Homo sapiens: one gene and its partner. The protein of the gene in region 2 interacts with the protein of the main gene of each other region in a pairwise test. Each region holds a gene or a part of one and is shown on either strand. Other genes may lie near its edges.

Region 1 (3,500 bases), on a different chromosome or scaffold from region 2:
AATTCAAGTTGCTTAAAAGAATGGACAAGGCCAGGCTGGCAGTTAGTAAACTCTCTATTACTAAAGGTATTCTTTGTATCTAGTGTTTATTTGATAGAGCTAAATGACCATTTTTCAGAGATGTTATCAAAGAGCTTCTTTGATAAAAAGCTCTGGCGCCAAGAATTGGATAAGGGGGCCTTTTCAATACCTTCCAACCTATTGTTCAACTAGTTTATGAAAACTCAGAGGAGGAAGGTCTGGAGACAATGTATAACAACTGTTTGCCTCATAGATTCTGAGTATTGCTACTTACTTTCTAATTTGTTATGAGCTTTCATAGGTTTCATATGAGCAATTATCTGCCCCTTTTTTCAGTTCATCCTTGTGAATGTTGATTTCTATGTAGTTATATTATCAAGTAATATTTATCTTCTGTTTGTCATAGTTGCTTTGATTTTTTAAAATGTAAGTTTTGTGTCATTTTTAAAACCTTTGGTTGAAGAAAAATACAAGAGTATAAAAAGAGTAAAGCTGAGTGATGGTAGCTAAGCCTGAGGTAATTATTTTTTCTTAGCCAAGTATATTCCTATAGTTTTTGATAAAAAAGGAGGATCATCTAATACATTTCAGATGCTCATCTAAATAAGCTATAATTGACATTGAGTCATAATACTAGAATAAAGGAGAATATAGAAATATTAGGGAGATTGTAATACTAATTTGTGTGATATACTTTTTAAAAACCTGATAATTCTACAAATACATCATATTCTGCTTGTGATTAAGAAAATGTTGTGACAGACATTTGATTCTTCTCCAATTCAAGTTCCCAGTTTGTTCACTGGGTTTAAAAAAATCCTTTTAATAATAGAGCAATTTTAAAGCAAATTGTCTCTACAATTGAAGCAGGTGGTGTCTCATAGGATTCCAGGTTGCCGTTTCTTTTTAAAGTGAGTATACTTCTTTGGTTAGGTGTAAGTATACCCCTTCCCCTGAGAAATATACTTTGTGGGTGTCGGGGGAACACAAAATTTAGTCCAGTAGCATTGCTTACTTGTTCAAGAACATGAGCTTTTTTAGCACCATCATTCAGAACCAGTTTTGTTGTTGATGATTACAGTTTTGTTACAGATATTCTGTTACTTAAAAATGTCATAAGATACTAAAAAACTGAGTTTAACAGCAGGGTAGAGTGTGGATCTATTTGCTCGAGTTACGTACCTCTTTTTTCCTGTTTGTATTTCATTATACCAGATAGTCCAGTAACTTTTCGGCAAAGTTTCTAAGTTGCTAGTTTTAACGAGAAATGTTAAATATTTATTTTCTATCAAAGAAATATATGTTGATAGTTTTAGAGGACAAATAATAGGAATCAGTTTTTAATGAAATATGTCCTCTATCCCTGAGTGCTGCCTGCCAGAGGCAACAATAGCTTTCAACACATTTAGCTGTTTCCTCTGGCATTTACCACCACATTTCTAAGTTGATTCTATACTAATATTTCTAGGCTTTTCGGTTTTAGATATTATTTATAGACTTCATCTTATAAAATACAAAGATTTTGCTTTTATACTACTATTGCTACCCACATTTCCTCTCCCCCATCCTCCTAATATGATTTGGTTACATTAATATGACTTTATAAATACTTGCCACAGATAAACCATAAATGATTATCTTTCTTTTCTTGTACAAAAGGTCTGATTTTACATTCCTTTGTTTTTTATGTGTGTACTATCTTTTCTTCTTCTAAACTTTCTGACAAAGCTATAAAACAGCTACTAGGTATTCAGTCAGCATCGAGTCTGTTTTGTTTTGGGAGCCCTCTTTCCTGTGGCACTCTATCCTTCCTCTCCATTTCTGAATTGGCAGTTCTCTTGCAGGTGTGCTGGGATGGCCTTTTTGGTGCCTGCTGGGTTGGAGCTCCTGCTTGCTGCTCAATCCCCATTTTCCTTGTGGTTGGTTTTGCTCCTTTGTTTTGTTGGAGTACATCTTCTAGGAGCTTCCTAGTACCTGGGAGCTAAACCTTTTATAACTTTGCATGCCTAAAAATGTAATTACGTTACTGTCATATGCTCATAGTTTGGTTAAATTTTAGTTTGGAAATAGTTTTCTTTCCAAATCGTAAATACTTTACTACATTTTAGTTTCTAGTGTTGCTCTTGAGAAGTCTAATTTCATTCCGATGTCCAATTTTTCACATGTGATTTATTCTTTTTTTTTCTGGAAGCTTTTTAAACCTTCTTTTTATTCCCAGTGATTTGAAATTTTTGATAATATTTCTTTGTGTATCCTCCCCTTCCCTGCCTCCACATTACATAGGACATTTGATAAGCTATTGAAATCTCAATCTCTAATCATTCAGTTCTGGAAAACTTTCTTATGTGATATCTTTTATAATTTCTTCTCTCTTCATTTTCCCTATTGACTCTTCTAGATCTGCTCTGATTTGAATGTTGGGTCTATTGATCTGATCCTCTAATTTTTTTTTTTTTTTTTAGACGGAGTCTCACTCTGTCTCCCAGGCTGCCAGGCTGGAGTGCAGTGGTGCGGCAATCTGGGCTCACTGCAAGCTCCACCTCCTGGGTTCACGCCATTCTCCTGCCTCAGCCTCCCAAGTAGCTGGGACTACAGGCGCCCGCCACCACACCTGGCTAATTTTTTTGTATTTTTTTAGTAGAGATGAGGTTTCACCATGTTAACCAGGATGGTCTCGATCTCCTGACCTCATAATCTGCCTGCCTTGGCCTCCCAAAGTGCTGGGATTACAGGCATGAGCCACTGCGTGCAGCCAATCCTCTAATTTTTTAAAACCAAATTTCTCCTATTATCCATCTCTTTGTTCGTTGTATATTCTGGAAGATTTTGAGAAAAATGTTTCTGTTTCCTATTTTTCTCTTTTTTTGTGGTTAGGATTGTTCTCTTTTATGGTATTGACCTTGCTCAAATGTCTAGTGATCTTTGACTATCCATTCTTATGATGGACATATGATGAATGGACTATTAAAAAGACTGGAAGTTCTGAATACAGGCTGGGCTTGTTGACAGTTTTATTTCATTGTAGAATTATTCAGTGAGAACCTGGCCATTTCATTAGACTTAACTATTTCTCCTGAGAGGAATCTGCCAGGCTTGTGGAGAGAGAGAGAGAGAGAGAGAGCAAGTGCAAGCAAGAGAGAGAGAGAGCACTGCTAATACTCTGACAGCTGGACGAGGGGAGAGAATCAGGAATCTTGTCTGTTCGATATGATTTATTCCATTTTCAGTTTCTTACTCCATCCTGTTTTGTTTCTACTGTCCTCCAGTCCTGAGTCTCTCTGGCCCAGTTTTTCCAGAGGTTAAATATCTTCCTTCTTGCGTGAGCAGTGGTCATCATGTGATTGCACAAGATGAGGGTATAAGTTTTTTGTCTGTGCTCTCCCTCTTACCCCTCCTTCCAGAGGTATCTGGCACATTCAATTCCTGAACTGTTTCACAGGTTCTGAAGTGCGAATCCATTTGCTTTTCGTTGGTCTCCT
Region 2 (5,664 bases):
ATTTCAGTCAGCTTTGACCACACAAGATTTACATATCTTTTATAACCTCTTACGATTTTTCTTCTATTTCCAACTTTCTATATTCATTTAGTTTTATCTATATCTTTTTTTATTCTTTCAATTTGAAACAAGCTTCAAATAACTTCTAAACTAGACACAATTCGTTTTCCATTAACAAAAAAATCACACTTCATGCCATTCTTTTTTTTTTTTTTTTCTTTTTTTTTTTAAGATGGAGTCTCACTGTGTCACCCAGGCTGGCGTGCAGTGGCATGATCTTGGCTCATTGCAACCTCTGCCTCCCAGGTTCTCCTGCCTCAGCCTCCTGAGTAGCTGGGATTACAGGCGTGCACCACCACACCCGGCCTCATGCCATTCTTACAACCTTTCTCTCCAAGAACATATCTTGCTTTTTTGGTATATTCTGCCTGAAGAATTGTTTGTCTTATTTCTAGTAGTTTTATTTGTTTGTTTTTAGAGATATGATCTAAGAACAAACTACTCAGTGATGTGATCATAGCCTACTGCAACCTCAAATTCCTGGGCTCAAGCAATCCTCCTACCTCAACCTCCTGAGTAGCTGGAACAACAGGCATGCCCCACCACACCCTGCTAAAATTTTATTTTTTTATAGAGACAGGGTCTGCCTATGTTGCCCAGGCCAATCTTGAATTCCTAGGCTCAAGTGATCCTCCTGCCTTAGCCTCTCAAAGAGCTGGGATTACAGGCATGAGCACTCCCAAACTGCTGGGATTACAGGCATGAGCCACCACACCCAGCCAACTAACAATTTAAAACTAGCTTTATTGCTGGGCACAGTGGCTCACACCTATAATCCCAGCACTTTGGGAGGCCGAGGCAGGCGGATCACTTGAGCCCAGGAGTTGGAAACCAGCCTGGTCAACATGGCGAAACCTTGTCCCTACTGAAAATACTAAAAAATTAGCCGGGCATGGTGGCGCACATGGAGGCTGAGGTGGGAGAATCGCTTGAACCTAGGAGGCAGAGGTTGCAGTGAGCTGAGATCGCACCACTGCACTCCAGCCTGGGTGACAGATTGAGAGTCGTTCTCAAAAAAACAAAAACAAACAAAAAAACCTAGCTTGATTTACCAAAGATTACTAAAGTCATATGAACTTCGAAAAACATTTGGGATAGTTAATTTGTGAGTACTCATTTATTTAGAAGTCAGTTTGGTACTACAGACTATACAAACTCATGTGTAAACATATATATACATGTAGACACAACATATATCACATGCACACACCAGTATCCAAAAGCCAGAGAGATTAGGAAGTTTAATGCAGGAGAGCAGAACTTTAGACATGAGAGGATGGACCCTGCCCATGGCTTCTGTGGCTCAGTGAGAAGACAGAGGACCCCCAATGGCCAGGCGTGGTGGCTCACGCCTGTAATCCCAGCATTTTGGGAGGCTGAGGTGGGGGGATCACCTGAGGTCAGGAGTTCGAGACCAGCCTGCCCAACATGGCGAAACCCCGTTTCTCTAAAAATACAAGAAAATTAGCCAGGGGTGGTGGCAGGCACCTGTAATTCCAGCAACTCAGGAGGCTGAGGCAGGAGAATCACTTGAACCCAGGAGGTGGAGGTTGCAATAGCCGAGATGGCGCCACTGCACTCTAGCCTGGGTGACAAGAGTGAAACTCTGTCTCAAAAAAAAAAAAAAAAAAAAAAAAGAAGACAGAGGACCCCCAAAGAGGGGCGATTGGTGGCTTTTGTGTTTGTGTATGCGTGTGTGTGTGTGTTCCTCAAGGGGTCTCAGGGTTCACAGAAGTCCCCTCTAGGCCTCTTCATGTGGTATCAAAAATGGCAAAAAGGAGGAGGGGCAGAAGGGGAAGGAAATGGAAGAACAAGTCTTAGAGGAGCCAATTTGGGGAGATTTTAAGCTTTCAAAAGGCCAATACAGTTTTAGTTAGTAGGAGTCTGAGGAACAAAAAAAGGTCTAGTTGACTAAGAAGTTCCCAAGGGAGAAACAGGATTTGAAAGAGAACAGAGAATATCAGCTATTAATTAAGCTGGCTTTTGACCACAGAGCCATCTTTCTTAAAAAAAACTTTTTTTTTTTTTTTTGAGATGGAGTCTTGCTCTGTTGCCCACGCTGGAGTGCAACAGCGCAATCTTGGCTCACTGCAACCTCCGCCTCCTGGGTTCAAGCGATTCTCGTGCCTCAGCCTAAAAAATCCTTTTAAATATGCAAGCAGCAAACATTTTGTCCTCTGAGCACCCGGTCTTTTTTTTTTTTTTTTTTTTTTTTGAGATGTAGTCTTGCTCTGTCGTCCAGGCTAGAGTGCAGTGGCCCGATCTGGGCTCACTGCAACCTCTGCCTCCCGGGTTCAAGCAATTCTCCTGTCTCAGCATCCCGAGTAGCTGGGACTACGAGGGTGTGCCACCACACCCACCTAATTTTTGTATTTTTAGTAGAGAAGAGGTTTCACCATGTTGCTCTCAAACTCCTGACCTCAGGTGATCTGCCTGCCTCGGCCTCCCAGAGTGCTGGGATTACAGGTGTGAACCACTGTCCCCAGCCTGAGCACCCAGTCTTTTGTGGGAGCAGAGAGAATGGTAGCTGTGGCATTTCATGCTTCTTTTTCCCCAGACCCTCCCAGCACCCCCTCTTTAGGGGGTACCCACCTCTCCTCACCTGTTTGGTTCCCAGCTGTAGCAGGAGGTATGTCTCTCTGGCCCCGTAGAGGAAGCAGATTAATGGGGAAAAAGTTACTATCACACTCTAAATATAAACCAACGTTTTAACCAAAGGAAATAACTCAAAATCAAAACAAATAAGAACATTTGAGACTGAAACCAAGAAGCTCTTGATGGCTTCAACCAAGGTTTCCTAAGAGGGAGCAAAAGTTGCAACCCTTTCAAAATCCAGATCATTCCCTACAACAGCTTAAAGAAAGCAAGGTTTTGCCAGCCGCAAATGGGGTACAACCCACATTTTTGTCTGGCCATATTCTCTAGGGTTTAAGACAGAGGAAAACAACAGCTGGATGAGAGGCTTACAGAATGAATGGGTACCCCAAAGGTTAAGAAGTCATACAAATATAAATTCAAAACAATTCAAACTAATTTTTTCCAAGTATTTCTTTTATTTTTCCTTCCTGAGTTAAAGGATTTACATCTCCTGGGGTCTTGTTCCCTGAAAGGGAATTGAATCCAGGCTGCAGTGGTGAAAGTGCAGAATCCTTACCACTGGACTACAGGATGGAGTCTTTTTTTTTTTTTTTTAATTTAACAAATTTCATAAGGAATCTAAAGCATGCAATTTGAGTACAAAGGATTTTAACTTTGTTTTAAATCTGATTTCTACTTTTCAAAAATCTTGCCGAGGGAGTTTCTAAACCTGTATTCCTTTTGTATCTTTTCATAGGTACCAATAAGGTAGCTATTTAAGATGTGAGCTCTAAAAAGTTTTCTTTTAAATATAGCCATTCATTTATTTTAAAAGCGATTGAAACCAATACAAGAACTAATTTATATGTTTTTCTCTGTTGATCCAAATTTAGAAAGGGTAAAACACAGAGACTCATACCATCCACATTTGACCAGGCACTATAGGCAGAGATCGGAGAGGAGAACTGACTTGGTTAAAAAAAAATGAGTTTACCTTTCTTTGCTGGCTTTTCATCCGTTGTTCCAAGATCCCATTCATTGGCTCTAGAATGAACAAAATGACTTACATCCTGATCACAACACCAAAAATTTTTCTCCTAAAGATTCGATACTTTGAGTCTATAAAACAGGCAGATAACAGATTAATGGGATAAAAGCATACACATTTATTAATATGCATATGGGCGTGGGAGTCATACAAAATATGAAAACTGAAAGAAAGGGCCAGATGCTTGATGCTTTTATACTTGAGGTTACAGAAGAATGGGGGATTGCAAGATGGCAAGACAAGTTATAAGAGGGAAAAAAAAACATAAGGGGCAAAGCTGTTCTTGTTATACAGATGAAACTTCACAGGTAGAAGCTCTCAGAAAGAATGGGCAGTAGTCGGCCGGGCGCGGTGGCTCACACCTGTAATCCCAGCACTTTGGGAGGCTGAGGCGGGCGGATCATGAGGTCAGGAGATCGAGACCATCCTGGCTAACATGGTGAAACCCCGTCTCTACTAAAAATACAAAAAATTAGCCGGGCATGGTGGCGGGTGCCTGTAGTCCCAGCTACTCAGGAGGCTGAGGCAGGAGAATGGTGTGAACTAGGGAGGCAGAGCTTGCAGTGAGCCGAGATTGCACCACGGCACTCCAGCCTGGGCAACAGAGCGAGACTCCGTCTTAAAAAAAAAAAAAAAAAAAAAAAAAAAATAATAGGTAGTGGTTCATGATAAGTTTTTTTGTTAGACCTTCAAACGTTTCAGACTCTTGGTTAATCTCCTAGATTGGGCAGGGGAGACCTCAGAAAGCCTGCCTATTTATTTCACCAATGTAGACTTTCTCTACCAATGTAGACTTTTCTCTCCCCCACAACATGCAGCTTTTCAGGGTTTTTCCTTTCTGCAGGCCATCTCAATAGCCATCTCGAAGTATGTCAAATAATTATTTTTGGGGGTAAAATATTTTGTTTCCTTTTTTTTTTTTTTTTGAGATGGGGTCTCGCTCTGTTATTCCGGCTGGGGTGCTGTGGCGTGATCTCAGCTCACTGTAACCTCTACCTCCTGAGTAGCTGGGACTACAGGTGTGTGCCAACACGCCCGGCTAATTTTTGTATTTTTTAGTAGAGATGGGGTTTTGCTATGTTGGCCAGACTGGTTTCAAACTCCTGGCCTCAAGTGATCTGCCCACCTCAGCCTCCCAAAATGCTGGGATTACAGGTTGAGCCACCCTGCCCAGCCAATTTTCTTTACCACTAAGTTGCTTAATCTCTTTGAATCTCTGTTTCTTCATTTGTAAAATGGGGTGAGTAGTGCCATTTTTATGAATATTTAAAATGTAAAAGTATCCCATAGTAAAGGCTCAAAACATGGTTTCTCTTTCCTTCAGTCATTCCATAAGCAAAACCCCAGGAACAGATATTATTTCTTATCTCTGTATTTCTTTTGGAAGAACACTGTGCCATGAAAAGTTGATCTATGACATTTCTAAGATGTCTCATATAGCCTCACTTTTAGCTTAGTTCTTTTTCCTTTGGTGGACTTTAATTTAAGAAGTTTCACTTTAATGTTTTATAATTTTAAGTGAACTTTATTCATATTGCTGTATCAGTTGTAAAAAATAGATTTGAAGGAAGAGCCTTCTCACTTCTGCCTTATCTTCTATTAGAAAGCTGGGGTGAGAGCCACTAGATAACTTGGAGCTGTATAAATGGAACTTAAAAGGAGTCTGGAGGCTGGGTGTGGTGGTTCATGCCTGTAATCTCAGCACTTCGGGAGGCTGAGGTGGAACTGCTTGAACCCCAGAGTTTGAGACCAGCCTGGGCAACAAAGTGAGACCTCGTCTGTACAGAAAAAAAAAAAAAAAAAGCTGGGCATGGTGGGGCATGCCTGTAGTCCCAGCTACTCAGGAGGCTGAGGTGGGAGGATCACTTGAGCTCGGGAGGCTGCTGTGAGCAGTGATTGCACCACTGCACTTCAGTTTGGGTGACAGAATGAGACCCTGCCTCAAAAAAAAAAAATGATTTACATTCAAAGGAAATACT

What was found. Proteins that work in one complex are often made in the same cells at the same time.
Region 1: the proteins of RNF125 (region 2) and UBE2U interact in a two-hybrid assay, tested with the Homo sapiens proteins (one large-scale study listed by BioGRID and IntAct).

What each region holds. Positions count from the first base shown.
Region 1 is NC_000001.11:64,217,123-64,220,622, forward strand, and holds part of UBE2U (ubiquitin-conjugating enzyme E2 U), read left to right. Parts: intron 1-888; exon of another isoform or gene 889-931; coding exon of another isoform or gene 932-932; intron 933-3,500. UniProt on the Homo sapiens protein: Catalyzes the covalent attachment of ubiquitin to other proteins.
Region 2 is NC_000018.10:32,023,992-32,029,655, forward strand, and holds part of RNF125 (E3 ubiquitin-protein ligase RNF125), read left to right. Parts: intron 1-5,664. UniProt on the Homo sapiens protein: E3 ubiquitin-protein ligase that mediates ubiquitination and subsequent proteasomal degradation of target proteins, such as RIGI, MAVS/IPS1, IFIH1/MDA5, JAK1 and p53/TP53.